Linked DNA regions of Homo sapiens. The protein of the gene in region 4 purifies or fractionates together with the protein of the main gene of each other region. This does not show direct contact. Each region holds a gene or a part of one and is shown on either strand. Other genes may lie near its edges. The genes, in order: ZNG1A, PASK, ANKRD40 and ENDOV.

The links.
Region 1: the proteins of ENDOV (region 4) and ZNG1A purify together in Homo sapiens (affinity purification with mass spectrometry; one large-scale study listed by BioGRID and IntAct). This does not show direct contact.
Region 2: the proteins of ENDOV (region 4) and PASK purify together in Homo sapiens (affinity purification with mass spectrometry; one large-scale study listed by BioGRID and IntAct). This does not show direct contact.
Region 3: the proteins of ENDOV (region 4) and ANKRD40 purify together in Homo sapiens (affinity purification with mass spectrometry; 3 studies listed by BioGRID and IntAct, with this or other methods). This does not show direct contact.

What each region holds. Positions count from the first base shown.
Region 1 is NC_000009.12:166,553-174,948, reverse strand, and holds part of ZNG1A (zinc-regulated GTPase metalloprotein activator 1A), read left to right. Parts: intron 1-1,582; coding exon 1,583-1,679; coding exon of another isoform or gene 1,680-1,683; exon of another isoform or gene 1,684-2,460; intron 2,461-2,776; coding exon 2,777-2,868; intron 2,869-8,396. UniProt on the Homo sapiens protein: Zinc chaperone that directly transfers zinc cofactor to target metalloproteins, thereby activating them.
Region 2 is NC_000002.12:241,129,552-241,137,947, reverse strand, and holds part of PASK (PAS domain-containing serine/threonine-protein kinase), read left to right. Parts: intron 1-683; coding exon 684-944; intron 945-1,908; coding exon 1,909-2,077; intron 2,078-4,110; exon of another isoform or gene 4,111-4,518; coding exon of another isoform or gene 4,519-4,666; intron 4,667-4,917; coding exon 4,918-5,074; intron 5,075-8,396. UniProt on the Homo sapiens protein: Serine/threonine-protein kinase involved in energy homeostasis and protein translation. Phosphorylates EEF1A1, GYS1, PDX1 and RPS6.
Region 3 is NC_000017.11:50,697,852-50,704,914, forward strand, and holds part of ANKRD40 (ankyrin repeat domain-containing protein 40), read right to left. Parts: intron 2,866-7,063; coding exon 2,717-2,865; intron 2,043-2,716; coding exon 1,548-2,042; intron 1-1,547.
Region 4 is NC_000017.11:80,419,688-80,428,083, reverse strand, and holds part of ENDOV (endonuclease V), read right to left. Parts: exon of another isoform or gene 7,811-8,396; intron 6,257-7,810; coding exon 6,122-6,256; intron 5,879-6,121; coding exon 5,839-5,878; intron 5,201-5,838; exon of another isoform or gene 4,951-5,200; coding exon of another isoform or gene 4,644-4,950; intron 4,565-4,643; coding exon 4,452-4,564; intron 3,053-4,451; coding exon 2,984-3,052; intron 2,626-2,983; coding exon of another isoform or gene 2,593-2,625; coding exon 2,464-2,592; intron 417-2,463; coding exon of another isoform or gene 234-416; intron 1-233.

The DNA.
Region 1 (8,396 bases), on a different chromosome or scaffold from region 4:
TAAAGGTAAACATATGGTCTTTATCCTCATGTATTTTAAGTTATCTGTGAAAATAAGTGTGCTTAACTTCTCAACTGAAATATTAAACTGTAGTCAAAAAAATAGCTCTAGACACAATACTTCTGTTATCTTTATAGAAGTTTTTCTTCATAAGTATGAATTGTAATCAAAGCTTACTTCTAGCCAAAAAACAATATCTATTAAACGATTTCTTTTAAAATGTACTATTTTTTTTCAGTTGTAAAAAGTAAAAGAGCTAGGTTTTATGAACAGGATGGGAAGCCAGTTATATTCGATTTCTGGTTTTAATAAACGAAAGAGAAAAGTGCTTTTTAGGCAAAAATCCTGAGATTTCTAATAACAGACTGTTTTTTTCATCATCTTATTAAATAACCTATTGCACACTGATTACATTTATTCTTACTATTTTCTTTATTTTTTCCTGGATCATTTTTGCAATTTTATTTTTCACAGCATTCTCAATACTTTTCTTCATGTTTCATTAATGTTCTGTATATAGTCCAAATTCTGTAGCAACCTCTTTAGAAGCTCTTTATTAATACCTAGCTGAAATATAAAAAATATGTAAGTGTAAAACTACTCGATTTTATGGGAGCTCATTTGCTTAGTGGGCTTTTAGAACTTCACTGTTTGGTATATTTCTTTATTAGAGGAAAAGTAAAACATTTAAAATAATTCTTATAGATAACAAGCATTTCAAATGTAGTTTATTCTTTCTTAAGTAAGTATTGCTAGGAAAATATGTGAATTTGACTAAAAGTTTAGGTTTTTTTTTTTTTTTGAGATGGAGTCTCGCTGTGTTGCCCAGGCTGGAGTGCAGTGGCGCAGTCTCGGGTCACTGCAACCTCCGCCTCCCGGGTTCACGCCATTCTCCTGCCTCAGCCGCCTGAGTAGCTGGGACTACAGGCACCCGCTACCACACCTGGCTAATTTTTTGTAATTTTAGTAGAGATGAGGTTTCATTGTGTTAGCGAGGATGGTCTCGGTCTCCTGACCTCGTGATCCGCCCGCCTTGGCCTCCCTATAAGTTTAATTTTTAAATGAGCACGTGGTACACTGGCCAAAAACCTTCCTCAAGATGAACTAGGGTTTTTACTCATTGGGAATATTCAGCAGTTTGTCTAACAGAAACAATTTAGAAGAAGAATGAAAAGAAAAAGATAGATAAGGCAGTCTCTTAAGAGGTTGAAGGGCATACAAAATCCAGTATATAAAACATACTGGTCTATTTAGAAAGTTTACCCTGGACAAGAAAAAAATGCCTTCAAGATAGCTACTTTATTAAGAAATGGGGGTGGCCAAGTAAGAGGCCTAAGGAGGAAGTAGGTATGTTTATCAGTTTAGGATGTGTCTTTTTCAGGGCTTAAGTCATCTTAAATAAAAGCTAAAATAATGTAGTGTACTGTAATTTAGATATCGAGGCTGCATGAATAAAATGAAAGAATATAAGTTATAAAATGCAGTTTCTGCTTTAAGATCTCCATTATTGAGTTATCCTCATCTTTGTTTTTTTTTGGCTAATGGACATAAGCTAAAGAGTGCTGTTTGTTAATTATTCTAGGAAGTGCGCTGGAGAAATCCTTAGCTGTCAGCCAAGGTGGAGAGCTCTATGAAGAGTGGCTGGAACTTAGAAACGGTTGCCTCTGCTGTTCAGTGAAGTGAGGAATGTGTTTACTGTGTACATGGTTTACTAGAAATGTTTATTGATTATATTTCCAGCTTTAATTTTCTTGAGTAATTTAACTGAATTTACACAGTTTGCTTCATTGTATTTTCAAACAAATAGAAAATAAACTTATTAGGAAGCATTTTCTTAAAGTGTTTCTTGCTGTCTTTTCTATCTGCTCTAATGTTTTGGTCCTTTTATTGAGTTTTTATTGCTTTTGATGTCAGGGCTTATTTAATCTCTAGTGCATGAAAGTCTCATATGTAAAAAATGATTATTCTGAATTTAATCTGTCATTGGTCATACTTCTAAGTGTTCAATCTTATAAAAAAAATAAATGACTATCAAAAAAGAGAAAAACCTTACGTTATGTTCTACTAGTTAAGTTTTCAAGGACAGTGTTCACTAGTCTACCATAGACCCTAGAAGAGTTACCCAACACATAGTAGCACTCAAATATTTGTTGAATGAATTATAAAAATGACTACTTGTACTGTTAATTTTGTGTATTCTAGTGAATTAAATCTCTTCGGCATCATTTACTCCCTTAGGTATTTGACTTTGTGTCAAATGTTTTGGCAAGGATAAAATTATAACAGACTTTCTTGAACAACCAAAATATAATCTATTAAGGATTTTCCTTCACTTTTGATAAAATAAGAAAAAAGGAAATTAAAACCTTGCATCCTAATGTAAAATAGAATTATATGGTGTTTAATATCAGTGTCTCTTTAGCTATTATATTAAACTACTATAGTTAATACATTTTATCATTATTTTGTATGTTGGTTTTTAAAAATTTCATAAAGCTATAAAAAGATACTTGGTCAGATAAAGTTTCCTCTGCTTTTAATTTTGATAAAGTATTATGTATATGATTTCTTTTTACCTATTATATATATGCATCTATTGTTTTCTCACTGGTAAATATGGGACGGACATTTTGTTAGAAGGTTAGAAGTGAGTTAAATTTTCACATTCCCAAGGGTACTTTTGTCTCGGGTTGTTGAATATATTTTAAAGTGTTTATAATAATCACTTCAAAATATTTAGGTAATTAACTGTAAATTATGTTTTGGTATTCTCCAGGGACAGTGGCCTTAGAGCTATTGAGAATTTGATGCAAAAGAAGGGGAAATTTGATTACATACTGTTAGAGACCACTGGATTAGCAGACCCTGGTAAGAAGTGAGATTATTAATAACCAGAATATAGTTCTGTGATATATTGTAAATAGATGTATTAGAGGAATATCTAAAATGAGGATTAAAGCTTTTGTTAGTATTAAACCAAAAACTTTTTTTGGTTTAAAAGAGGAAAAGTACTCGGTTGTCATTTTCTTTGGCAGTTGAATGAATGAACAGAGTATTTCTTGGTACTTTTAAGCTGTTAATAGAATTTGAAGTTTTATTGATTGACTTAGGATTATTTGTAAGAACAGAAGTTGTTAAAAATAAGGACATGTAGGAAGAGCAGAGACGTTCTACCTCTAAGTACAGTTGTCCCTTGGCATCCATGGGGTATTAGTTCCGGAATCTCTGAGGATACCAAAATCTATTAATGTTCAAGTCCCTTACATAAAATGGTGTAGTATTTGCCTATAAGCTATGCACATCCTCCCATATACTTTAAATCATCTGTAGATTACTTATAATACCTAATACAATGTAAGTGCTGTGTAAGTAGTTATTACACTGCATTGATAAGGGAATCATGACAGGAAACTCTGAACTCTACTATGGAAAGCTACACAGAGTCAACCTGTTTCTAACAATGGGTTTCTGTTACCTTCTTACCAAGCTCTAATTCTTGATAAAGTCTGCTTATTTTCCCCAAATAACTTTTAGATAAAATCTTTATTTTCATTTTGCATAAAAGTTAGTGCTTATTCTGTGAATCTGACCCATACCATTATTTTTTTTTTTGATCTGGGTCTCTGGCATTGGGGCGATTTGTAAAACTATATTAAAGTATTTGGGGGTAATTTACTCAACAGGTCATAGTTGTCCAAAAGAAATATTGAAGTATCCTGAGAGTTCAAATGTGATCAGTGGTTATTGTACTTAAAACAATTACATAATAACATCATCCCCATGTTTTCAAAGTAGTATTGAATTAGGCTATTTTGGTCCTTATAGTAGGCATGGGTTTTCATACCTTTCTGATAAATCTGACTGATGATAGGACTTGGACTAATATGTTGGTGTTAAATATTTGAATCTGGTAAGAAAGAAAAATATATTGTATGCTTTTATTAGAAATAGCAAATATCAGTTTATTTCATCATAGCCAGTTTTGCCATTTTATAGACAAAAACTTGATACTTTTGAGAGTTTAATTAAACACGATTCAGCTTTTCAGAGGAAGAAAGAAAAACTAAAGATCACAGAGAAAGCTTTTATACAAATTGTAGTTATAAAAAATGTTAATGTTTCTTGCTTCTAACTTTCTTTACAATAAAGATTTTATTGTTTGGGTAAAGATGGAACATTCATTGTAAAAAAATTTAAATACCTAAAAAATACAAAGAAGAAAGTTGAAAAGTAATCATCTCACTTTTGTGATATACAAGTAGGGGCTGGGCATGGTGGCTCATGCCTGTAATCCCAGCACTTTGGGAGGCTGAGGCAGGTGGATCCCTTGAGGCCAGGAGTTCAAGACCAGCCTAGCCAACATGGTGAAATCCAGTCTCTACTGAAAATTCAAAAACTAGCCAGGCGATGTGGCGCACCCCATAATCCCAGCTACTCAGGAGGCTAAGGCAGGAGAATCGCTTGAAAGCTGGGAGGCGGAGGTTGCGGTGAGCCGAGATCACGCCACTGCACTCCAGCCCAGGCAACAGAGCAAGACTGTACACACACACACACACGCACATGCACATGCGCACACACACACACACACACACATTCATACACACACACACACAAGTAGGTACATTTTATTCCAGGGATCTCTCTATGCCAGTGCTACTTGGTAGTATGTTGAATGGCAGCCTCAGCCTCAGCTGGGAGCTTGTTAGAAAGGCAAATTCTTGACCAACCCAGATCTACTGAATCGGAATCTCTAAGGGAGGGGGTCAAGCAAGCTGTTTTTAATAAGCCCTTCAGGTGATTCTTATACTGTACAGCCATACCGCAGGGATATTGTGGGCTTAGTTCCATATCACTGCAGTAAACTGAATATCACAATAGAGTGAGTCACACACATTTTTTTGTTTCCCATTGCATATAAAAGTTATGCGTTTTGGCCGGGTGTGATGTCACAGGCCTGTAGTCCCAGCTACTTGGGAGGATCACTTGAGCTCAGGAGTTTGAGGCTGCAGTGAGTCATGATTGCACCACTGCACTCCAGCCTGGATGACAGCATGAGACCCCATTTCTTAAAAAAAAAAAAAAAAAAAAAAAAAAGCTGTGTTTATACTATACTGTAGTCTATAAAATGTGTAATAGAATTGTCTAAAAAACATACATACCTTAATTAAAAATATTTATTGCTAAAAAATGCTAACAATCATCTCAGCTTTCAGCAAGTCATAGTCTTTTTGCTGGTAGAGGGTCTTGCCACGATGTTGATGGGTGCTGACCAATCAGGGTAGTAGTTACTGAAGGTTGGGGTGGCTATCGCAATTTCATAAGATAATAATGAAGTTTGCTGCATTAGTTGACTCTCCCTTTCATAAAAGATGTCTCTATAGCACATGATGCTATTTGATAGCATTTTACCCACAGTATGACTTCTTTCAAAATTGGAGTCAGTCCTCTCAAACCCTGCTTTATCAATTAAGCTTCTGTCATATTTTAAATCCTTTGTTGTCATTTTGACAGTGTTCATAGCATCTTCACCAGGAGTAGATTCCATCTCAAGAAACCACGTTCTTTTCCCGTCCATAAGAAACAACTTCTCATTAGTTAAAGTTTTCTTATGAGATTGCAGGAATTGAGTCACATCTTCAGACTCCCCTTCTAATTCTAGTTCTCTTACTGTTTCCACCACATCGGCAGTTATTTCCTCCATTGAAGTCTGGAATCCCTCAAAGTCATCTGTGAGGGCTGGAATCATCTTTCAAACTCCTATTCATGTTGATACTTTGATCTCCCATGAATCACAAATGTTCTTAATGGCATCTAGAATGATGAATCCTTTCCAGAAGGTTTTCAATTTACTTTGCCCAGATCCATCAGAGGAATCACTGTCTATGGTAGCTATAGCCTTATGAAATATATTTCTTAAATAAGACTTAAAAGTCAAAGTTACTCCTTGATCAGTGGGCTGCAGAATGGATGTTGTGTTAGCAGGCATGAAAACAACATTAATCTTGTACATCTCCATCACAGCTCTTGGGTGATCAGGTGCGTTGTCAATGAGCAATAATATTTTGAAGGAATCTTTTCTTTTCTAAGCAGTAGATCTCAATGGTGGGCTTAAACTAAACCGTGCTGTAAACAGATGTGCTGTCATCTAGGCTTTATTATTTATAGAAAACAGGCAGAGGAGATTTAGCATAATTCTTAATGGCCCTAGAATTTTTAGGATAGTAAATGATTATTGGCTTCAACTTGAAGTCACCAGCTGCTTTAGCCTCTAACAAGAGAGTCAGCCTGTCCTTTGAATCTTTGAAGCCAGGCATTGACTTCTCTATAGCTATGAAAGTCCTAAATGGCATCTTCTTCCAAAAGGAGGCCATTTCATCTCCATTAAAAATCTGTTGCTGGCCGGGCTCGGTGGCTCATGCCTGTAATCTCAGCACTTTGGGAGGCCGAGGTGGGCAGTTCACGAGTTCAGGAGTTCAAGACCAGCCTGGCCAACATAGTGAAACCCCATCTCAGCTAAAAATACCAAAAATTAGCCTGGCTTGGTGGTGGGAGCCTGTAATCCCAGTTACTTGGGAGGCTGAGGTAGGAGAATGGCTTGAACCCGGGAGACGGAGGTGGCAGTGAGCTGAGATTGCACATTGCACTCCAGCCTGGGTGACAGAGCGAGACTCCATCTCAAAATAAATAAATAAATAAATAAAAAATAAGTCTGTTGCTTAGTGTAGCTACTTTCATGAATGATGTTAGCTACATCTTCTAGGTAGTTTACTACAGCTTCTATATCAGCATTTGCTGCTTTCCCTTGCACTTTTATGTTATGGAGATGGCTTCTTTCTTTAAATCTTGTGAACCAACCTCTGCTACCTTCCAACTTTTCTTCTCTAGCTTCCTCACCTCTCTCAGCCTTCATAGAACTGAAGAGAGTTAGGGTTGCTCTGAATTAGGCTTTGGCTTAAGGGAACATTGTGGCTTGTTTGATCATCTATCCAGACCACTTCATATCAGCAATAAGGCTGTTTTATTATCATTTGTGTGTTTACTGGAGTAGCACTTTTAATTTCCTTCAAGAACTTTTCCTTTGCATTCACAACTTAGCTAACTGGCTCAAGAGACCTAGCTTTTGGCGTATCTTGGCTTTCAACATAACTTCCTCACTAAGCATAATCATTTCTAGCTCTTGATTTAAAGTGAGAAACAGGTGACTGTTCCTTTCACTTGAACACTTACAGGCCATTGTAGGATATTAATTGGCCTAGTTTCATGTTGATCATATTCTTTATGTTGTCATGGTTCTGTCATAATTCTTTTAGTTCTATGTTTTAATAGTTTTGGTGCTTATTACCAGTACTGTTGCTTCTCCATTCCCGAGTTAGTCCATCTCCTGATTGAATTTCATTGTCAGGCAGTCTTTTCAAGTTACAGGTACTGCATGCATTCTTTGGGTTCTTATACACTTCATTGATTCAAAATATTTGTCTTTTGTTTTTATATTACTTGAAGGATTACTTGGCTAGGTATAAAATTTATCAGTCACACTTTATTCCCCCTCAACTTTGTAAATGTTGTTCCATAATCTCCTAGTGTTTGATTGGCTGGATTTCTTTGTCCAATGTTTTCTCTTTTTATTAGGAAGAATTTGTGAGTATTATAGTCTCTGAGTTTCAATGCTTGCTGTTTTCTTTAATGCTTGAGAATGTCTGTCTATTGCTTTCGTTCCTGAAAAATAACTTGTTTGGGAACACTTTCATTAGAACTTTGTGGTCCCTGTTTTATTATTTTGGGACATCTAGTGTTACTGTAGAAAAGTCTGATTTTTCTCCCTACCTCCTTGAAGGCAATTTTTTTTTTTAATCTAAAATGCCTGAGAGTTTTCTTCTTTATTTTTGAAATTCAGTAATATAAACAAGGTATATCTAAGTGTCACTTATAATCATTTTTCCCTAAATTATAGTATGCCCTTAGTTCTTCTAAGAACATTTTCCTTGTTTATTACCATGAATACTTTTTTTTGGTCAAATTATTAGATCCTCTACTTCATGACACCAGTTTTTTTAATACTGAATTTTCTTTTGTTGTTCGTATGTATTCTAATTGCTTTGATTTGTCTTTTACCTTTGCATTTACTGTGATCATCTGAAGCCTTTCTTTTTGTCAATAATTCTGTTTTCTCCAGTGTCTGTCCTGTTTTTGATATTTTAAATGAATTAATTGGTTAAGTCATTGTGTTATATAGGCTCTAAGTTTCTTTAGCGCTACAAACGCATTTTCATCTTATTCTGCTTCTTCTTGCTTTTGAGCTTGTTTATTATAAGGTTGTATTGTTTTCAAGTTCTTCATTATGATGAAGTTGTTGAGAATTTTCTTTAGTTTTTATTGGGTTATGTATCCTTCCAGAA
Region 2 (8,396 bases), on a different chromosome or scaffold from region 4:
GCTCCTGACCTCCCGCACTGTGTGATGGGGTGGAGTTCTTAGCTCTGAATCCATAACTGGAGACGCAGACCAAGGGTTTCTGAAGGCAAGGGTGGCCTTAGGGGTGGGACATGCTCAGTTTTGAGCTTCCTGTGCGCTGAGGCCTTGACCAAGGGCCGGAGCCTATGTGGTCTCCCAGCTGACCACTCTTGTCCCCTGAGTCTTCTCCCAGGAGCTGGGCCACCCACAGAGGTGGATGCTGGGACGCTGCCCAAGGCTGAGGGGTGGGAGGTAACATCCACAGCTGCGCAGCTGGTGTAGTGCTGCCTGTGGGGCCAGTATCCTGGTGCCAGATCAAGGATGGCACAGTTGCCAGTGGCGTGGCTGAGCCCCGAGCCTGAGCCCCACAGTCCTCCCTCCCTCCCTCCCTGCTGGTGCCCGGCCCCTCACTGGGGTGTCTCACTTGCCCTGGGGTTGCTGTGCCTGGGGCGGCTCTGGACACTGAGTCCTCCCCACCCACAGAAGGGCTCTTTCCTGGGCCAGCTGGGCCTGGGAGGAGAGGGAAGGCAGAGCAGTGTGGGTGTGAGATGTCCTGGGGACCTTCCCCGATGACGTGGGGTAGAAGTCGGGTCGGACGCAGCACAGACTCAGTGCTCTGTCCACGTGAAACACGGCTTAAGCCAAACGACAAGCCTTTCTTTCAGAATCTCAAGATTCAGAGGTCTGTTGGAAGAGCCAGGGACGGTACCACCTTCCCTCTGAGCTTAAAGCTGAAATCCCAACCCAGCAGCGAGGAGGCGACCACCGGTGAGGCGGCCCCTGTGAGCGGCTACCGGGCATCTGTCTGGGTGTTCTGCACCATCAGTGGCCTCATCACCCTCCTGCCGGATGGGACCATCCACGGCATCAACCACAGCTTCGCGCTGACACTGTTTGGTTACGGAAAGACGGAGCTCCTGGGCAAGGTGGGGCTGCCCTGGGCGCCTGGCTCCCGTTCCCTGGGAGGAAGCTGCTGTGCTCTGCAGTGCGGGCTTGCGTGTGGCACAGGCCTCGCACCCGGCAAGCTCTCCAGCTCGCTCCTTTACCCAGGAAGGACCTTGGGTCCAGGGAGGGAGGTCCCTGCTCATGGCTGCCAAGCTCCTTCCTCTCCACCCTTCCCCAGCAACCACCGTCGGAGGGAGAGGAGCACTGTGCTTCGAAGCCCTGAGAGATCTGGTCTGACTGATGGACCAGGGTTTACGACACAACTGCGGGGGTTCATTTCTCACCCTAGTAGAAATACTAAAAAGTAGCTAAGCTGAATTGTAGTTACGTTAAATTTAAGTTAGTTAAAAAGCAGTTAGTGTTCTTCCTGGATGAGGGGTTCCCACAGGAGCTGAGGGCATTGAGACCTTGCAGGGATTTTGGGGGCATGGACACTTGTGCCCTCTGTGAGGTTAGAGCGGGTTCTGGCATTACAGCTATGGGCAGTGTCCCGGTGAGGGGGCCACACACAGGTTCAGAGGAAGCATCTGTCAGAGCAGCTCCTGGCCTGGGAGGAAGGCCCCACAGTCCTTCTGTCCTGGGTGCATGTCACTGTTCCGGCCACCAGTGAGCCGCGTGAGGTGAGGCTTGCAAACACAGGCTCCCAGATCCATCTAAACATGGGGCCAAAGGCCAGATGTCTGCTCCAAAGATGTGTCGATGTCACTGTAACTTGCCGCAGAGTATGTTTTTACCTTTTTCTTAAGGGGAAAATCACAGATCACATGTTGAGCATCTGAGGGGCTTCAGGTGCGTCGAAGGGCATTTGGCCCGAGGCCTTTCCTGACCTTAAGGGTGAACCCTCAGGGACTGGCTCTCCTTGTGTTCATTCCTCCCCCAGGGGGACGGTCCAGTGGGTCAGCGTGGATCCTCCAGGTTCTGAAATGTCCCTGCTTTGTTTTCTAGAATATCACTTTCCTGATTCCTGGTTTCTACAGCTACATGGACCTTGCGTACAACAGCTCATTACAGCTCCCAGACCTGGCCAGCTGCCTGGACGTCGGCAATGAGAGTGGGTGTGGGGAGAGAACCTTGGACCCGTGGCAGGGCCAGGACCCAGCTGAGGGGGGCCAGGGTAAGACGTCCTCTTCCTCCTGAATGCGCCTGTAGCTGCTGAGCCCCAGACAGCCCCATGCCTCTGAGACAGGGCTGGGAGGAGCAGGAGCTATTGTCCCTCCAGAGGCTCAGGGGTGGTGGGGGGCGGAGTAGGGGGTGACTGTTTTCTGGTTTGATGTTCCTCTCTGTCTCGGGGGCTGTGACATATTCTTATAAACATATGAGCATAGAGAAGAGAATAGAAAACCCCCCAAGAGTGCATCACCAGTGCCCATGATATCCGAGACACAGCATCCGAGACACAGCTAACTGACCGTCTTGTCTTTTCTAAGTAAACTTATATAGCTTCATGTAGTTTAAGTGAAGCCATGTAGCATATCGGATTACCGCTGACCCTTGAACAACTGGGTTTGACATTAGAGGGTCCACTTATACACAGATTCTTTTCAACCTCAGAAATCCAGTACTGGTGGGAGGTGAAGTTGGCGTATATGGAGGGCTGACTTTCCATGCACCTGCGTTCCACGGGTGGGCTGTGGGACTTGAGGGTGCTCGGATTTTGGCATTCTGGGGGTCCTGGAACCCATCCCCTGAGTGTACTGAGGGTTGACTGCAATTCCTAAATTGAATGTTCTACCAGTATTTCCTGGTTTAATTATGTTTATCCCACATAGTTTTAATTTAACATTTTAAATGATTTCAACAAATACTCCGAGTCCCTTTCATATGCACAGTCTTAGGTGTGTGGCTTGTGAAGACAGGGTGAGCACACTGCCTCCTGTCCCGAGGGACCCACTCTGGCTGGGAGCAATGAGGGGCAGTAGAACCCGCTGATGTCCTGGCAGGGCCCACGCCTGAGCTCCTGGTAAGGAGCAGGCCCCTGGCTGCTTCCACAGTGCTCATTCTTGTTGACAAGCATGGGGTGGGGGTGCGCCCTGTCCCTGGCTCTGCCCTGGTGGGGACCCCGGAACTCTGCCTCCAGGGCCTCTGCCCACCTGGAGCGTGGGCTCACTGGGTGTGGTTCTGGAGTTCCTGGGGCAGGCTGGGGCCCAAGGGTCCAGGTGATGGTGTGGCAGGGGTGTCAGGTGGGGGGGTCTCTGTTCTATGGAAGGACACAGTGGGGGTGAGAGAGAGAGAGTGGCCAGTGCTGGCAGAAAGCACAGCCACCTCGGGGCTCTGCATCGTGGTGGGGCCAGGCGGGTCGGCAGGTGCTGGCTTGCGAGGTTGTCCTGCATGCGGTCACTCGGGTATCGAATGAGTGCGAAAGTGGATTTAATACAGTCACTGAGAAAAACTACAGCTTCACGAGACTGACCAGCCTGGTGAGATAAACATTTACCGTCAGACACTCTTTAGCTGTCTGGGCATTGTGTGAGTTCTTTGGCACATGCGCCCAGCCTCCTTCCCCACAGGGTCTCGCCTGGGGCATTAGAAGCTGGATTGTAACATTTGTTTTAAAAGATACTTTGTTAGGCTGTTGGTTCTCCTTACAATCCCGGCTTTCCTTAGCATGTGGTTCCCTTCATTGTATCTGGGTTTTTCTATCTCAGTCTGTCCTTTATACAAGCTTTTTCCTCTAGCACTAATTATATTCCCCTTCCCCTTTTTCCAGAATTCCAAATTCTGACCTGTGCATGCATGCCTGTGTTGAGTACATGCTGTTTGTCGGATATTTGGTGGTGGGGGGAGGGGATCACATTTCTGTTACTCTCGCATTGTTTCCTTAGGATGAATTCTTAGAAGTGGAACTTCTGGATTCAGGGAATGAACACGTTTGCTAGTTACTGTCAAAAATGCCTCTTGGAGAAGTTATGCCGAACCACCCAACTGTCCTGGTCACAGAGCAGGCTTCTCTCGGCTTGGGGCTAGGGTTCTTTCTGGGGTCGTCCTTTTTTTTTTTTTTTTTTGAGACAGAGTTTCGCTCTTGTTGCTGAGGCTGGAGTGCAGTGGCACCATCTCGTCTCACTGCAACCTCTGCCTCCTGGGTTCAGGTGATTCTCCTGTCCCAGCCTTCCGAGTAGCTGGGATTACAGGGATGTAGCACCATGCCTGGCTAATTTTGTGTTTTTAGTGGAGACGGGGTTTCTCCATGTTGGTCAGGCTGGTCTCGAACTCCCAGCCTCAGGTGATCTGCCCGCCTCGGTCTCCCAAAGTGCTGGGATTACAGGTGTGAGCCACTGTGCGTGGCCTCCCAGGGTCCTTCCTAATGCAGGCTGCTTTCTCTCATGTAACCAAGAGACATACATTCATCCCCTACCACGTGCCAGGCTGCACTGCGTGCAGATGCCCCTGCGCTCACGGGGACTGGAGGGAGCCAGGTGACATGGAGCCCAGGAAGTGGCCAGAGCTCGGGAGGAAGGCAAAGAGGGGAAGAGGGCATGCAGTCTTAGGCTTGGGGTCCCAGGAGGCCTAGGGAAGCCTTGTAGATACCCAGGTACAGCATTTCTGGGATCAGGAGCCATGATCCCAAGGCCTCTAATACTTCAGATATGGCAGGGAGGCCAGGTGGAGAGACCTGGAGGAGTGAGGCCACAGAGTTGGGGGGCCATGGCCGAGACTTCGGCTTCTATCCAGAGTCAGATGGGAGCTGTTGGAGGGTTGTCAGCAGGTGAGTGCCGTGCTCTGACTTGGGTGTTAATAGGATCATGGTAGCTGGCTGCAGGTGTCCTGGGCCAAGGAGCAGGGAGACAGGAGGCAGAGAAGAGGGCGCTGGGTTGGACCTGGGACGCCTGGGGTGGTGAGAGGTGGTCGATGCTGGTCATGCTGTGAAGCAGTCTCAGTGAGTTCCAGGCGAATGAGCAGATTCGTTTTAGGGAGTGCCTGTGAAGAGCAAACGCTCTTTTTTGGTGTTGCTGCCAGATCCAAGGATTAATGTCGTGCTTGCTGGTGGCCACGTTGTGCCCCGAGATGAGATCCGGAAGCTGATGGAAAGCCAAGACATCTTCACCGGGACTCAGACTGAGCTGATTGCTGGAGGCCAGCTCCTTTCCTGCCTCTCACCTCAGCCTGCTCCAGGGTAAGTCCCTTGGTGGGAGGTTGCAGGTTTACTAAAAGTCCAGACAGATGGTAGGTGAATGAGGAACAAGTCAGAGAGAAATGTTCAGCCTATTATTCATAGTAACATTGAAAACTCACATGTGTTGAGCACCTGCTCTCTTCCACACACACTGACTGCTGGGTTTTCTGTGCTGCCTGGCTGAGTCCTTATCAGCCTGTATGGGAGGGCACCATGGTGTTACTGTCTCACTGTAGGGATAAGGAAACAGGCTGTGGAGAGTTCCAGAATGTTGAGGTAGATTTCAGAGAACTGATGGAATCATAATTTTATCATTTTCTTTTTTTTTTTTTTTTTTTTTTTTTTTAGACAGAGTCTCGCTGTGTCACCCAGGCTGGAGTGCAGTGGTGCGATCTCAGCTCATTGCTCATTGCATTGCAAGCTCCGCCTCCCGGGTTCACACCATTCTCCTGCCTCAGCCTCCCGAGTAGCTGGGGACTACAGGCGCCCGCCACCACGCCCGGTTACTTTTTTGTATTTTTTTTAGTTTCACCATGTTGGCCAGGATGGTCTCGATTTCCTGACTTTGTTATCCACCCGCCTTGGCCTCCCAAAGTGCTGGGATTAATTTTATCATTTTCAAAGTCATATGAAGCTGTTCTCTTTGCACATTTTAAAATATTCTATTTAGAGTAAAGAAAGTTTATATTAGAGAATTAGGAACATTTGGAAAAGTAGAAATAAAAACTTGTTCTATTCTCATAGTCGTATTGTACATAGCACGTGTGTGTGTATTTTTAACCCATTTTCTTCTTCGGAATCTTTTTTTTTTTTTTTTTTTTGAGATGGAGTCTCACTCAGCTGCCCAGGCTAGAGTGCAGTGGCGTGATCTTGGTTCACTGTAACTTCTGCCCCCTGGTTCAAGTGATTCTCCTGCCTCAGCCTCCTGAGTAGCTGAGACTACAGGCACCTGCCACCACGCCCGGCTAATTTTTGTATTTTTACTAGAGGCGGGGTTTCACTATGTTGGCCAGACTGGTCTCGATCCCTTGACCTCATGGTCCACCCGCCTTGGCCTCCCAAAGTCCTGGGATTACAGGTGTGAGCCACCATACCTGACCCAGAATCTTTTCTTATGCACAGCATGCAGTAAAGGTGCCCAAACTGTAGGTGCCCAGGTGGCCCAGGACCCTTTCTTGGCTGCCTGCAGACCCTGGGTCCCTTCCTGCACTGTGCCCCCTACACCCTGCTGCCCTGGGTCAGGGCAGAGGTTAGACTGCCTGCCGTTGAGCCTGACGCATGCATTTCCTTCTGTCTGCCTTCTGCTTATTGCTGTGTCTGTGATATTTATCCACATAGTTGTGTTTTCTAGTCTTGAAATTATTTAAAAAATATGTAATAGATACATATAAAGTATGTATGTATGTTTAAAAATATGTAATGCATGGGCCAGGCGCGGTGGATCACGCCTATAATCCCAGCACTTTGGGAGGCTGAAGTGGGTGGATCATGAGGTCGGCAGATGGAGACCATCCTGGCTAACACGGTGCAACCCCGTCTCTACTAAAAATACAAAAAATTAGCCAGGCATGGTGGCGGGCGCCTGTAGTCCCAGCTACTCGGGAGGCTGAGGCAGGAGAATGGTGTGAACCTGGGAGGCGGAGCTTGCAGTGAGCCTAGATCGCGCCACTGCACTCCAGCCTGGGCGACAGAGTGAGACTCCGTCTCAAAAAAAAAAAAAAAATGTAATACATGCATATGTGTTTTTTTAATTATAGAAGAATAATGGTAAAAGCAATAGTTCCCCTGGCCGTCTTCCAATCCCCCTCCTCCAATCCTACTCTTTCCCCCAGGGGACCGCAGTCAGCAGTTAGAGCCTTCCAGGCCTTCTTTCTTGTGCATTTAACTATAGTTGTATATTATACTTCTATGTGTGCATGTGCATATGTGTGCTCACATGTAACTGCTTCTGTTCCCTGAGCACGGCTGGGATTATACCATACACAGTGTCCTAAATGTGTGTGTATGTGTACGCACACACATGTCCTGCAGATCTTCCTCTACAGGCCTCCTCGGAACCGAAGCCTCCTGGATGGCACCCTAGCTCATGGGCCACTTTCCCACTGGCCGATGTGCCGGTGCTTTCTCTTGTTTGCTTAGCCTCCCTGATTTTCCCTTTGCCACTGTGGGTCCGCGTTGAGTGGCGTGAGAGGGTAGCTGTTGGCTCTATTTGCTCTACTTCCACTGCGAGTGGAACAGAGCAGGCGCTCAACACGTGAGTTTTCAATATTACTATGAATAATATTGCTGTGCGCACCTCTCCAGAGGTGCCACCAAGCTGAAGTGGGGCGGCCGTGGTTGAGGGCCCAAGTCTGACCCGTGGGTGCTCAACAGCACTAGCGGCCGGGCCCCCTTGCCAGTGCTCCCGTTGTCTGGGACATCTTGGTGGACAGAGGCCACGTGGCCCGTTGCTATCCTCAGGACCTTGGACACAACTCATCTTCCAGGACTTGGTGGTACCAAGGGAGTTGCCCAAGATCAGCCAATTCCTAGTCTTTCTATTGCATTGGACGTTTCTGGATGTCACAGTTCTGAGAGTTTGATTAGCATCCACTGCACAGCTAGTGCAGTTATGACTATAGAGATTTATCCATTCATTCCCCGCTCAGTCATTCACTCACTCGTTCGCTTATTCAACAAATAAGCATTACAGAAGACTTGGGGTGTGTCCCTAAGAATTGTAGTCTGGTCAGGACAATAAGCTGAAACAGTAAGACAGAACAGGGTTAGGAAGCATGAAGGAAGGAGGTGAGCTGTACGGAGTGCTTTTGTGTTTTAGGGACTACGTTGGGTGCTTCCTCGTAAGTTGTCTCCTTTAGTTCTCCTGGTAATCCTGGGAGTGTAGTCTGATTTTTAGCAAATGGATGCTGAAGCTGAGTGAATTGTTACACTGGGCATCAGGTCCTCGAAGAGACCCCAGGTGATGTGCTCAGACAGCAGGTGGGGGTCTCGGGTCTCCACGGGGGTCAGGTCCTGGTGCTTCCCCACTGGAGGACCTACGGTCCCTGGGGCTGCCCTGGGTTGAGGTCCCAGCAGCTCAAGGCCTGTGTGCAGTCGGCAGATCACATCCTTCATGCCCTGACTGCATGCTGGCCAGAACTGAGTGGCGTGGCGATGCCTGGCTGCCAGGGCAGCTGGAGGATGTCCTCATGTTTCCTGAGTTGCTGTCATGCTGAAAGTCAGAGATCCACAGTTTCACAATCTCTTAGCCAAAATTATGAAATCCAAAAAGCCCCCAACACTGAAATATTTTTCTTAGAATTGATGCTAAAAGCATTGGACG
Region 3 (7,063 bases), about 30 Mb from region 4:
TCCTCAAAAACAGGAAGTGAGAGAGTTACTTCCAGGAAAAAAGGAAAAGTAAGACTAGCTACACCCTATGGCATTTGACTGGATTTGGAAGAATCAGGATGAACTTGTGGTTTTTAATATTTTTAAAAAGTTATACATAGAGAAATATTGATATCTTTCCTGGCTATGTCCTCTCAACGGGCCTAGAAGAAATGATATACCTGTAGCAATGAGGACACCTAGTGACCACATCCTGGTGTCTGAATACCATTCTCGGTGGGCCCAAGTGGGAGGCAAGTTTGCTGTGTGCCCTAAATACCATTCTCCACCAAAAAGAACCAGGGCTTCTTGGAGAAATGACTGATTCCAGGGTTGGGGCAGGAAAAGTTATGCTATAAGCCCGGAACATCTTGCTGCCCCAGAAAGTAAGGCAGTGCTCCAAGAACAATGAAGACACATGCAAGGGACATAAGAACTAGCTTCAAGGGGCTCCCACTGGCCAAATCTGGGATAATTTGAATAATTAAAAAATGATAGTAACAGATTATAACCCACTGAATAAAATAAGAATATATGAGTCAATACTGATATGAATGAAGGAGAAGGGAAAGCCCTTCTTTACAGTAAAATACCAACTAATAAGTAGAGAAAGAATGATAGAAAATCATATCCCACAAAAATAATTGGCCTGGACTCTTCAAAAAGATCAAGATCAAAAATGATAAAGGGTAAAGATTCCAGATTAAAGGAAACTAAAACAACGTGATAACTACATGCAACATATGATCCTGGGCAGGATGCAGGGGGCAGAGGAGTACAGATAGTCCAGATAGATATCAATAGTACAGATAGTACTATTTCTGTAATAGTACAGACAGTACGTATAGTAGATGAGGGAATACAAAAGGCAATGTTTGAGACAACTGACAAAATTTAAACATGGTCTATGGATTACAGAACAGCATTAGCTCAAGATTACATTTCTCAAATTTGGTCATTTGTACTGTAGTTATATAAGAGAATATCCAGCTGGGTGCGGTGATTCACACCTATAATCTCAGCACTTTGGGAGGCTGAGGCAGGCAGATCACTTAAGGTCAGGAGTTTGAGACCAGCCTGGCCAACATGGTGAAACCCCATCTCTACTAAAAATACAAAAAAAAAAAAAAAAAAAAAAAATTAGCCAGGCGTGGTGGCATGCTCCTGTAATCTCAGCTACTTGGGAGGCTGAGGCAGAAGAATCACTTGAACCTGGGAGGCGGAGGTTGCAGTGAGCCAAGATCACACCACTGTACTCCAGCCTGGGTGACAGGGCGAAGCTACGTCTCAATAAAAAAAAGAGAGAATATCCTTGTTCTTAGGAAAGATATAATGGAAAGAATACTGAAGGGTATCAGGGTAAAAGGGCAAAAGGTAAACAATTTGTGAATTTGAGTAAAGGGAGTTCCTTATGTTAGTCATGTAACGTTTCTGTAAGTTTGCAATTATACCCAGAATACCTCATTAAATCCCACCCCTCTGGACACCAACTCCCCTGTTGCAGAGGCTGTTTGCTGATGAGGGGTTACCTTGCATATTAAATGGAAATGCTCCAGTGAAGAAAAATGGCTGGAATGCTGGCGCTGGTCCTGCATACGTCCCATTTTGAGGCTCCAGAGACATTGGTGGCTTGGACGGGACAGAAGAAAACAGGGAGCGGCTCTGACTCACTGGTGGCTGACAAACAGGACCCGGTTTTGTGCTTTCTGGTGTTCTGAGTATGGCAGAGGGGGCCGACACATCACCATTCTGAACTAGTGCCAAAGAGGTGTGGTCCCGGGGAAAGGTCCCTAACAGGGGAGGTTCCCCAGGGGGAAGCAATGGAGGTGAGCCATCTGCAGGGGGTGATGCAGGGGGTGTGGAGGGGCCCCCATTCTGCATCTGGGCTGAATCCTCTGCTGTGGGTGTATAGATAAAAGGGAAGGCTGGGTTGGCCAAATAGTTGGGAACAAAGGGCAGTTCTGACTCCTTCTTCAGCTGGGGGAGGTTGTCATCATCATCATCATCATCATCTTCTTCTTCCACTTAAAAAGAAGAAAACAGAACATTTACACAGTCCTTTCAAAATTATCAAAACAAGGTGTCTTTTGAAAGTGGTGTCTTTTGGTATGTGACATTGGTCAGTGTCAGGTCAGAAGAAAAAAGAATACTTCATTAGGTTTATGATTACCATTTTTATCATTATCTTAAATTTTACAAATAAAAAAATAAAACCTTACAATGCTGACCTCCCCAGAAACAATCTGGAATTACTATCTTGGCACAGTAATTTGCTTTTAGAAATAGAACAGTTGCCGGGAGCGGTGCCTCATGCCTGTAATCCCAGCACTTTGGGAGGCTGAGGCTGGCGGATCACCTGAGGTCGGGAGTTTGAGACCAGCCTGACCAACATGGTGAAACCCCGTCTCTACTAAAAATACAAAATTAGCGAGACGTGGTGGCACATGCCTGTAATCCTAGCTACTTGGGAGGCTGAGGCAGGAGAATCACTTGAACCTGGGAGGCAGAGGTTGTGGTGAGCCGAGATCACGCCACTGCACTCCAGCCTGGGCAACAAGAGCTAAACTCCGTCTCGGAAAAAAAAAAAAAAAGAAAGAAATAGAGCAGTTGTTTGACCAGCATTAAGAACGTAGCCAATAATACCACAAGTCTTCAATGAGTCTGAGGAAATCAAAAGTTCCCCCAAACACAGACTCACCTCCCATAATCTTCCTGATTTCTCTCCTTGATGTTAACTGGACTGGCATTTCTCCTTTTGTGGTAAGAATTTCTTTGTCAGCTCCTGATTTTAACAGGTAAGAGACCACCTGACCATGGTTTCGTTTACATGCCCAGTGTAAACAAGTCCTGTACCAAAGAAAATAATGATTGAAAAAGAGGAGAAGTGATTTTGGATTTCAGATTCTAAACATTAGTAAATAATGTATAAACAAGCCTGTTAGAGTTCAGCTAGAACCAGGTAACCGGGCTGGTAATCTCAACTTTTCACAAAGCCGATGAGCAAAATATTTAATATGCTTAAATTTTGTTTTTAAATTTCATTTCTGGCTCCTGAGAAAAACTAACTTAACCTAGGAGTTTTAATTTCAATAGCCTCCAGAAGGTAAGCTCACTGGCTGGCTAACTCCAATGATACCGTGGAATATACTCTATCAGTATCGCTCATTAGATCATCTCAGTCTCTGAAACATATTTTTCTATTGCTATATTCCTTTTCAGGGACTATGGAAACTCACTTCATATGCCACCTGAAGATTCAATATTATCAGGATAATAACCATCTCCTATCAGCAGCTTGCTCTGTCACTTAAATTATTATTATGACAGCAGATATTCTTGCCTGAATCCCAGTTGCTCACTTTCTTTTTCCTTCTTACTTTTCTTTCCTTAACACACACACAAAGGATTTCCAAATTTCCATTTTTAAAAAGTTGGCTTCTCTAGTTCTCTCCAGAAGGCTACAAACATATCCTCATCTGCGTAAATGTAAGGCACTGCACACATACTTTAATTCCTGAGGTACTTAAAAAATATACATCAACAACCAAAATTCTTCACGAACAGGTTCTTCTAACATATCAGACTCATTTAAGTAAAACTAATCACTCAATATTGTACACAGAGGAAGCAATTCTGCACACTCTGAAGGGCTACTATTTTAATACTGTACAGAAACATAATTAGCATGCCAGCAAAAACTCCATCTTAACAGAAATGAAAGATTCAGAGCAACTAAATCCATCCCTAGGTGCCAGAGCTGACTGTATATTATGGAAGGAAAATACTTTTCGCCTGTGTTTTGAAAGGTCTTCTTTCACCAACTCTCTAACTGAACTGAGATACATATCTTCAGAGCTCTTATAGCCAAATACAGAAATGAAGATTAGAACAAATGTTCAATATTGAAGGTTAGTTCACTAACCTGGGAAGTATAATTATTTGGAAAGTTTATATGATTCCAGGAAAAAGCTGATTTGCCCTGGGCTTAACATTAGTAACTTACAGAAAGTTAGCATGTCTGGCTGGCTGGGAGCAATTCCATTGATGTCTCAGAGTGACATTCTACATTATGGTTCATTAGAATTAGATTATCCAGGTTCCTTTAAGGTGTATTCCATGATGCAATGACAAAATTATTGCTAATTTGGGAAAAATAAGAGTCTCGTTAAGTTTGGGAGAGAAGAGTCTTGATCAAGCTCCCTGAAGGCAAGGAAGTGTTTGCTTGGCATGTATTAATTAATATTTACTGAATGGGCCAGGCACGGTGGCTCACACCTGTAATCCCAGCACTTAGGGAGGCCAAGGCAGGTGGATCACTTTAGGTCGGGAGTTTGAGACCAGCCTGCCCAATAGGGTGAAACCCCATCTCTACTAAAAATACAAAAATTAGTGTGATGGTGCATGTCTGTAATCCCAGCTACTGGGGAGGCTGAGGCAGGAGAATTGCTTGAACCCAGGAGGTGGAGGTTGCAGCGAGCCAAGATTGTGCCACTGCACTTCAGCCTGGGCAACACAGCAAGACTCCATCTCAAAAAAAAAAAAAGTACCAAATGAGTAAACTAAGGATAAAGTGGACCTTGCTTGAAGTAGAAGGATCCAATCTACCCTTGATTCTGGGCAAACTGGAACCTTGAGTGTGTTTGTGTGTGGATGTCTGTGGCACAGGCTTAAAAAGTGAACAATTATAATGATAAGTGAGCCCTCAAAAATGAATGAAGCATGATGAGAAAAATATGCTCCCTTTTGGAAATAAAATGCTCACTTGCTAGTAGTAGATCACTTGTTCGTGGCAAGCTTGAGAGTAAAGGAGGTAATTTACTACCAGTGGGTCTGAGAGACTCTGGGACAAACCAACTTGCTAAACTACCACCCATGTAAAGCAGGGTTAAGTCAACATAGCGTGGCCCCCACAGCCCTGTGCCTTAGTGATCATCATTTACCGTCCAGAGCTGTGCGGCTCTGGGCAGCCATAACTCAGAGCCCCTGCAGCCAGGTAATATTTTCAAGTTCTTCATGAACCAAGGGTTATGCATGACACTTGAATTACAACTGATGTGGGGGAATGATTAGTGATCAATCTAATTGATAGATTACTCTATCTTTGAACTTCAACTCCTTAAGCTTTACATTTGCAGTCAAAATATCTTATTAGTGTCAGAAACTATTTCAGACCTGAGGCACTGGGTGTCATTCATCAACAGGGCATCACTCATTGGTGCTGAAATTGTGATTACTGAGCAACTAAGACTTGAAAGCAGTCACCATTCTGCTTTGCAAATGCAAGAGAGTACGTTTTTTTGAGGGTAACCTTATATTCCATTATCTAGCATATTGCTTCATAATAAGAAAACAACAACAATGGCTAATACAGGTATAATGCTTTACGTGTTGGACATTGTTCTAAAGGCATTACATGTATTAACTTATTTAATCCTCTAAACCCATGAGGTAATACTACTGTCAACATTCCCCCCATTTTACAGAAGAGGAAACAGACATCAGCAAATAAATAAGCAAAGCACGCAGTACGCTAGGTGGTGATGAAGTATGACAGCAATAGTAAAGCAGGGAAAGGCATTAGGGAATGACAGAGGTTGGAAAGGGGCATTGTGCAACTTTAAATTGAGGGCCCAGGAAAAGCCTTGCCAAGAAGGTGACATCTAAACTAAAATCTGAAGGTGGTGAGGAAGCAAACCATGTGATATCTGGAGGGAAAGCATTTAAGAGAGTGGGAAGACAAAACGCAAAGATCTTGAATCAGGACTGTCTGGTATTCCAGAGAAAGCAAGGAGGCCAGGGGAAAAAGGTAAGCAGAAGGGCAAATCCCATGAGATTAGCACAGAGGTAAGGAGGGAAGATGTGGGGACAGGAAGTAGAAATTGTAGGACCCTGTAGGCTTTTACTGAGTGAGATAGGAGCCATTTTTGAGCAGAGTGAAATGATCTGACTTATGTTTTAAGTCAGGATCCCTCTGACCACTGTGTTAATTAAGAAGACTGTATGATATAAGCTTAGGAGCAAGGACACTAGTAGGAGGCTATTGTAATAATCCAAGCAAGAGAAACAATGGTGGCTTTGTATCAGAGGTGTAGTGGTAGGGTTAGTGAGAAGTAGTCAGATTCTGACTGTATCTGAAGGTGGAGCTCATAGAATTGGCTGACTGGATGTCGGCTATGAAAGACAGGAGGCAAGCAGGAGGCAAGCAGGGTGCCAAGGGTTCTGGCCTGAGCACTCCTGAGAGGCTGAGGACTCAGAGGAGCAGGCTTGAGGTGGTAGAGGGATGAGGGGAGACTTGGAATTCAATCTTGGACATGTTGAGTTTGAGGGGCCTATTAGACAGTTCCTCCAATTAAATCTACAAGAGGCCGGGCGCGGTGGCTCACGCCTATAATCCCAGCACTTTGGGAGGCCGAGGCGGGCAGATCACCTGAGGTCAGGAGTTCGAGACCAGCTTGGCTAACATGGTGAAACCCCATTTCTACTAAAAATACAAAAAACTAGCCAGGCGTGGTGGCACACACCTGTAATCCTAGTTACTTGGGAGGATGAGGCAGGAGAATCGCTTGAACCCAGGAGGTGGAGGATGCAGTGAGCTGAGATCACGCATTGCACTCCAGCCTGGGTGACAAGAGTGAAACTCCATCTCAAAAAAAAAAAAAAAAAAAAAAACCTATAAGAAGCCTCTTCAGGCTACCTCAGAATCACTTCACTAAACACCTCCTATGGGGCAGACATTGTGTTTAGGAGGGTAGGTCTGGCATCAGATACCAGGTTTGTTTTCTGGCTCCACTAGTTACTGTCAATCCTATGACCTTGGGAAGGGGCACTGTGAAAAGTGAGGAAACAACTTACGGTTTCTGGGCCTCAGTTTCTTCATCTGTAAATGGAGAGAACAGTAACTATGTCCCCAGGTAGTTGTGAACAAGCTAACACATGTAAAACACTTAGAACCCTATCTGAGCTGGCCGGGCACGGTGGCTCACGCCTGTAATCCCAGAACTTTGGGAGGCAGAGTCAGGCGGATCACAAGGTCAGGAGATCGAGA
Region 4 (8,396 bases):
TGGGGGCAGACCCTAGCAGGGAGGGACACTGAACAGGGCTCAGGTCTGAGTGGGAACCCCCGGGGGCATGGGGGGTCTGGCCCTGGGAAGTCCCCCTGATCCCAGCTCAGATGAGCTTAGATTAGCTTCAGGGCTGCACGACTCATGGAAAGCAACGGCTAATCCCCCAGCCTGCTCCTGCTTCCATTCATGGGGGAAGTGGGGCAGCGGTAGGCGGGGCCAGCACCTCTCACCTTCCCCTGGAGCGGCCCAGCCTGGCCTGGCAGGAGAGCCTGGACCTGGCAACCAGGAGCGCCGCAGCGCCTGTGACCATGGGGCCACCAAGACGGCCCGGCGCGGAGCCAGGGAGAGAGCAGACCAACACTAACCCCGTCTGTGCTCTCCCAGGACCTTCTGGAACAGAGCAGGAGGTGAACCTGTTGAGAGGTGAGTGAGCTCAGGAAGAAAATGGACCGAGAGACAGAGCCAGCCCTGCAGGACACGATCCTCGGCTCACGCCCAACAGTAAGAAGCTGCGGGCTCCTGGTACGGGGTGGCTGCATATCCCAACTGGTTGCGGCTTTCCTTCCTCTGGAGGGTGGGCCCAGGATTTGGCAGGCTCTTTGCTGGTGCTAGGCACAGATCCTTGCTCTATTTCTAGATGCTTAAGGTACTCACAGGCCAGGTGTCCCCTCCCTTGCAAGGATGGGCCACTGTCCTACTCTGGGGCGCGCTGAGGCAGAAAAAGGTACAGGAGCTCCAGGAACTGTGCTGTCTGCAGCAGCAGCACGACCTAAAGTTCCTGTGGCTGAAGGCCTGGGGGACAGTTTCTTGGGTTCTCTCTCGGAAGACCACACGGCTGAGTTGGAATGGAGGAAGAAAGGCCTCTTTCCTGGGGGCTGGGGACACAGCTCACAGGCTTGAGAGTCCACACACCTGTGCCCTGAGCAAAGCCCTGCAAGGCTGTGGAGCCCGCTCTCAGACGCCACCACTGAGCACAGCTCCCCAGGGCGAGGGCCATTGTGGTATGTGGGCTGCTGCTGCCCCCTGGAGGCCACACTGCGCGCCAGCAGCCGGAAGGCCCCGGCCCGAAGGTGGTGGCCTGGGGGTTTTCCACCGGTGCTGCGGCTGCCCCAGGGCAGGCTGCAGGGCAAGCGGTGGGGTAAGATGGGGAAGGGGCAGACACCAGGGAGGCTCAGGGGCTGGGCTGCTGGAAGCAGCATGGCTTGTGCAGACCTGCGTCCACAGCCTCCACAGCACGCACAGCGGCCACCTAAAAAGGCCAATCTGCGGGCGCCCCGCTGCCAACTCACAGCCATCCAAGTCCCTGTGGGTGACGTCTGAAACCCTGGCGCACCCCAAGATGCTCACGGGCTCCCACCCACTCTGTACTTCACTGCCATCTGGCTCCGGCCACACCTTCCTGCTGAGTTTTTGTTTTTTAAAGTTTTTTTGAGATAAGGTCTTGCTCTGTCACCCAGGCTGGAGTGCAGTGGCCCAATCAGGGCACACTACAGCCTCGACCTCCTGGGCTCAGGTGATCCTCCCGCCTCAGCCTCCTAAGTAGCAGAGACCACAGGCACGCACCACCACACTTGGCTAATTTGTTTTTACGTTTTTTTTGTAGAGACGGGGTCTATGTTGCCTAGGGCGCCCTCAAACTCCTGGGCTCAAGTGATCCTCCCACCTCTGTCTCCCAAAGTGTTGGGGTTACAGGCGTGAGCCACCCTCCGGGCCCCCCATTTCTTGAGCACATCAAACTCCTTCCTGCCCAGGGCTGTCCTTCCCCTTCCTCCAGCGGGTCTCTTCCTAAGACTGACTTTTCTTGAACCCTCACTCTGTGGGCTTCTCTGGGACAGCATCCACCCGTGTCTTGTGGTCCCCTGGTCCTATCGAGGCTGTCTGTGGGCATCTCGTGCCAGCTGTCTCTCCCTGGCCCACAGGCTGAGTCCTTTCTCAGCTGAGCTGATGGCTTCAGCAGAGTTCTCACCCTTCCTGGGGGACCGAACACCAGTTTTGTGCTGGGTCCTGGGGCGGGCATACCCAAGTCCCCAGACTGGCGTCTCTGGGGCCTGCACAGCTTTCCTGCAGGAGCCTCCTGGCTCAAGTTCAGCTGCTCCCTCTGGGACCTGAGGGGCTGGCTGGGAACTGGCAGGACACCTCACCACCTGAGCTAACATCACTGATTCTCCAAGCTGGCCTGTATCTGGGTGCAGGAGGCTCAGAGAGGCTGGGAGGCTGAGTGCATGGGGTGCAGGGCCTGGGGATGAACTCTTGGGAGCCCTGCACCCCCCAGTCTACTGTCCTGACTGCAGGGCCCAGCAAGCTCTCCAGCAAGATGTCTGTGACCTGTCCTCGGCCCAGGAACCCCCGTCCTCATGTCACTGCACTCTGACCCCAGCTGAGCTGCTGGGGAGCCCTGAACAGCAGGTGGCAGGAAGCAGAGGAGCCTGTGCTGCCTCCCCGCATCCCCAGCACACCCACCTGGCGCACGGGCTCTGGGATCCGGAACCTGCAGCAGCAGCAAGTCAGGCGCACAGCGGCCTCCAGGCTCATCCTGTGGCCCACGGAGATGTAGAGGGGCCTGGTGCTGCGGTCGTGGCTCCTCAGGGCCTGTGACAAGGAAGGCGAGGGCTGTCCTGTGGGCTGGGCCACCGGGACCAGGGTCAGGACAGCCTCAGCAGCTGGAGCTCTGACAAAATGTCCTGGGGGCAAGGGGGAAGCTGAAGGGGCAGTGCTCTCAGGGGCCAGGGCCTGCCCACCCTCAGGGCGCCTTCCTGCTGCTTGTCCCTGGGGGAGGGTGGGCTCCCTCAGCACGGCTGGAGGAAAGAAACACAAACATCACACCCTGGACTCAGTCAGAGGCAGGAGGATGGATGGACGGGCAGGCGGGGGGTTGATGTGGGCAAGTGTGAGTGCACGCGTGTCTGCATGCACCTGTGTCTGCCTGCAAAGGATCCCCTACCCCGGGGCTTTGGAGGAGCTCAGGGCCCTAGCTACTCACCATTCCCAGGACAGTCCCAGAGTCTCCCAGCAGAGGGAATGAGTCTCCTCGAGTCTGCAGGAGTCGGATCTGGAAAATGGAGGGAAAAATGGGGAAAAAAACCCCTCTCTTCTTGGTGAAGGGCTGAAGGCAAGTCTCTATTTTTTGAGACGGAGTGTCGCACTGTTGCCCAGGCTGAAGTACAGTGGCGCGATCTCAGCTCACTGCAACCTCTGCCTCCCGTGTTCAAGCGATTCTCCCACCTCAGCCTCCTGAGTAGCTGGGACTACAGGCATGTGCCACCACGCCCGGCTAATTTTTTGTATTTTTAGTAGAGATGGGGTTTCACCATGCTAGCCAGGATGGTCTCGATCTCCTAATCGCGTGATCCACCCACTTCGGCCTCCCAAAGTGCTGGGATTACAGGAGTGAGCCACCGCAACCGGCCCAGGTCTCTTTATTTTTAAAACCCAGTCACTGGGCCAGGAAAGGGAAGGGGACTGATCTTGGAGGTGAGCCACAGCCCAGGCAAAGCCACACCACCTGAGACGACACTGAGCGTGCAGGCGGTGAAGTGGTCTTGTCCCTGAGCTGAGGGTGCTGCCCACAAGACCCTGTTCAAACCTGATGATGGGGCTTAGAACAAGGGCAACAATCTGCCCAGGGCCGCTGTGCCAGGCTGGCAGCCACACAGGTGCCGCCACTGCCCAGTGATGGGTGCTGAGCCCGCTTCCTTCCTGTGGCTTCTCTCCTGCTTTGGGCACATCTGACACAGCTCAACAGGCTGGTATTTCTGGCGGCGGTGGACTGGCTCATTGAGTGGGTCTAAGGTCCCCATCAACTCAACAGATTTTTATTAAGCAACTTCTCCATGCAGGCACCTGAGAGCTAGGAGGAATGAGAGACACAGTCTCTGCTCTCAGAATCTGCCATCCAGTGAAACAGCTGGGGGTGTCAACAGCTCCCTCCATTGTGAGTGTCTCACTCCCAGTGCCAACATGGGGTCCCAGAGGAGGAAGATGCAGGGGAAGGTGAGGTAGGAAGAGTGTGGGTGGCAGCTCCAGGCAGGTCTTGGCGGGAGGGGGGCCTGGAGGCTGTGGTACCTGAGCATGCAGGGGAGGAGACAGGGGCTGGGGCAAGGCGGGGTGGGGAAAGCACCAAGTGCGCCCGGGACAGCCTGGAAGCCCGTCCTGTCCCCAGTAACTGGAGGACTTAGCCCTACTTGGTGTGCCACGGTGGCTCAGAGGCAAGGGGGACCAGAGAGGCAGGCACACCCAGGAGGCAGGAGAGGAGCTCAGAGCGCCCTCAGCTGAGACAGGCAATGCAGCACCCAGAGGAAAGCAGGTCTTTCTTACTCCAGGCCACAAGCCAGGGATGAGGAGGGCAGCGTCAGCAGGCAAGGGCTGGTCCAGAAGTGTCCTCATGCCCAGGGCCACCACAGCCCCGCCACTGAGCTGCCGGGCATGGCCTGCAGCAGGCCCCTCCTCACCTTCTCCTTGTGCAGGGCGTTGTTCTCCAGCCCATCCACCTGCAGAAGTTTCTTGGCCACCCCAACACACGGCAGGTCTGTAAGGACGCCAAGGTGGCAGGCCACCCCAAAGCCTGCCAGAGAGAAAGGAGGGTGGGGTTGGGGAGGTGGGGCTGGGGCCTGGCACAGGGATTCAGGACAAGCCAGTCTTACCAAAAGCTTCCCTAAGTGAGCAGAGGTCTGTGGACAGGCAGAGGGCTGGGGAAACCAGATCTAAGTCCCAAGCAGACCTGGGCGAAAGCCCCCTGTGCCCGATGTCCTGGGTGCAAGGCCGTGGAGGAAGCCTCCTTCTCTCTGACACGGTCAGTGCCAGGGTCAGCACCTCGCTGGCGTGCTGGGATACTGCAGCTCTCCGGTCATTTCCTGCACCTCCCAGCTTCCTCTTCCCTCGACGGTGGCCTGCCAGCGCTGGCACGAGCATGTGGGTCGGCACATGACAACCCTTTGGCTCTGCACCCATGTGCGAGGGCAGCAGCCAGGGCCGAGTCACACTTGCTGGCCAGGAAGGCCCAATGTCACCCCTCCTGGGCCCTCTCTGGGTGCTGCTGCGCCGCCCGCAGCTCTGTATGTAACAGTAAAAGAGCCCATCTCCCTAGGCCGGGCGCGGTGGCTCACGCCTGAAATCCCAGCACTTTGGGAGGCCGAGGCAGGCGGATCACGAGGTCAGGAGATCAAGACCATCCTGGCTAACACGTGAAACCCCGTCTCTCCTAAAAATACAAAAAAATTAGCCGGGCGTGGTGATGGGCACCTGTAGTCTCAGCTACTCAGGAGGCTGAGGCAGGAGAGTGGCATGAACCCGGGAGGCGGAGGTTGCAGTGAGCCGAGATCGCGCCACTGCACTCCAGCCTGGGCGACAGAGCGAGACTCCGTCTCAAAAAAAAAAGAGCCCATCTCCCTCAGCCACGCTCCCTAGGCCAAGGTTCCTGGCATCAGTGGGGGCCTGGGTACACCTGTCTAGTTGTGGACAAGGGGCCTGACGGGCCATGCAGGTTGGGCGGCTGGCAGGGAAGGCCACTCTGAGCCCGGGCCCTGGGACATCTTTTGGTGATCAGGTCAGAACTGGATAGTGGCACCTGGAGATGAGCCAGCACAGGGCACTGTAGAGAAGGCAGTGGCGGACAGGAAAGAGGTAAGGGGTGAAGCGAAAGTAGACAGTCCTTTACCGGCGGTGGGGGAGGCGGGGCTGAGCGCACTGCGCGTCCCCGTTGCGCCGAGAAAGAAGCCATTGGAGGGGGCTGGCGGCAGAGGCCGAGGGCCCAGCATTTTCTGTGGGGGACGACAGAGGTGCCCTCTCCCCCCGCTCTTCCCCACAGTGCCCTCCCTGGACCTCCAAGAGCAGGATTACCTCGGTGGTGGAGTACCCCGTTTCCATCCACAAGAAGGACCTATGGAGCCACAGGGAGAGTCACAGTCAGCTGAGCTGCCCCTCGGCCCTCAGGACAGGGCCATCCCTGAGGCAAGAAGGGGGCACTGTCTCTGGGGTCCAGCTTTTTAGAAATCCTCATTCCTCTCTTCCAGGAAGCTCATGAGTCTCTCCCTGCCACTGTGGTGGTGGCGACCTGCAGCAGCCTTCCCTCCCCCAGGGGGAAGGAGGGACCTTTCTCTCGTCCTAGGGATGAGACACCTGCCTGGGGCATGAGGCCCGGCTCCTTCTCCCGCAGCTGCTGCACCAGCTCCAGCAAGAAGGGCACCTCTCGGAAGGCCAGGAAGCCCGACACGTAGGGGGCTGTGAGGCTGACCATGCGGCTCTCCTCATACACCACCTGACACCAGGCACGCAGCTCAGTGGGAAGCACAGCCTTCGGCCACCTGCTCCATCCCCAGTCCGTCCATGCCCTGCCCCCCTCATCCTTCCCTCTCCCTTACGTCACCCTCATGGCTCCCCTTCCCTGCCTCACCTATGAGATGATGGGTTTGGAAGAAGGAACTAGAAGATGTACCCTGCAAATTGGTGGTGGGCAGGTACCCCCGGGACCTGGTCCATAGGAGCAGACCCCCCCAGGACCTGGTCCGTAGCAGCAGCTCCCCCGGGACCTGGTCTGTAGCAACAGCACCCCCACCCCGCCCCCACCGGGACCTGGTCCATAGCAGCAGCCCCCTGGGACCCGGTCCATATGAGAACCCCCACCCCGGACCCGGTCCACTGGAGGAGCCCCAACTCCCAGACCTGATGTGTATAGTAGGAGCCCCTGGGACCTGGTCCATAGGAGGATTCCCTGGTATCTGGTCTGTATGAGGAGCCCCCAGGACCTGGTCCATAGGAGGATTCCCCGGGATCTGGTCTGTATGAGGATTCCCCGGGACCCGGTCCATAGGAAGATTCCCCGGGATCTAGTTCATAGGATGAGCCCCTGAAGCCTAGACTGTAGAAGGATTCCCTGGAATCTAGTCCATAGGAGGAGCCTCCGGGACCTGGTCCATAGGAGGATTCCCTGGGATCAGGTCCGCGGGAGCCCCCCAGGACCTGGTCTTCATCAGAAGCAAGGCTAAGGCTGCTGGCTGCATCACCTCTGCCTGCCCCTTGCTTTCCTGGTGTCTCCTCCTTTGTGTATTGAAGCCGATGCCCCACCCCACCCCTCCATGGGTTGTTGGAGGCTTAAAGAAGACACAGTGTTGGCCAGGCGTGGTGGCTCACGCCTGTAATCCCAGCACTTTGGGAGGCCGAGGCGGACGATCACCTGAGGTTGGGAGTTCAAGACCAGCCTGACCAACATGGAGAAACCCCGTGTTTACTAAAAATACAAAATTATCTGGGCGTGGTGGCGCATGCCTGTAATCCCAGCTACTCGGGAGGCTGAGGCAGGAGAACTGCTTGAACCCAGGAGGCAGAGGCTGCAGTTTAGAGCACAACATGGCAGGCCTGAGTCTCCTAACCTTGTGTTTTCCTTAGTCACACTGCCCTTAATGTGAAGACGTTTCCCACTATGTCCACATTCTGCAGACCTGTCTACCTTCCTGCAGTTTTGTTACTGAATCCCCCAAATCTCTTGGTGACAGCTTTCAAATCACAACTTCCACTCCTCACTTGTGGCTGGATCAATAATTAAACACACCAAAGCAGACGGAGTGCTCTGTATTAGCACAGAGGGTTGGGGATCATTCTCACAACATCTTCATCAATGACTCAATGGGGAAACTGATCAAATCTGCCCATGACCCAAAGTGGGGAGGGTCCATTCTGATAACAGAATTTGGGTTCACAGAGAAGCCAGCAGGCTGGATCACTGACATCCCCACAGAGTAAAAGTCACTTTGCACAGTGACATGTGGAATTCAAGTGTGGCCTGAGTTCCCACAGGAGGGGCGTGGCTGCTTACATCTGAATCTCTCCCATAATGTTATCATTCAGGTGACATTATGGGATGACTATGATGTGTAATCAGTATGATAATGACACTGTGGCTGTGGAGGAGAATGTCATTCTCAGGACAGGCCTGCTGATGTCTTCTGAGCTGTCACAGTCGCTGGGATGTACGGTACACACGCACACAAAGAGCGCATGTGCGCGAGAGAGAATATTCCAGAGCAGCAACAGCTGAACCTAAGTAGAAGGAATACAGGTGTCCAACGTATCCTTTTCCAATTTGGGGGGATGTATGTACATTTTCAAATTAAAAATCTGGGAAAAGAAAAATCACTGTATGATTAGCGTAGGGGGCAGGTCTGGATGACCAGCAATCTCAACATAAGCCAGTGACCTGGTGCCCCTCAAAAGCTACCAGTGTTTCCAGCTACACCGACTGAAATGGCGTGGGTGACAGTTAGGTCTAGGGACTTGGGTAGACCACATCCAAGTTCCTGCATTTGATTCTGAGTGCAGACGGAAAGATGGATTGTGTGAACGGAGGGCATGACCAGAGGGCCACTGACCAGTGAAGAAGCTGGACGTCATCGCAGCCTCTT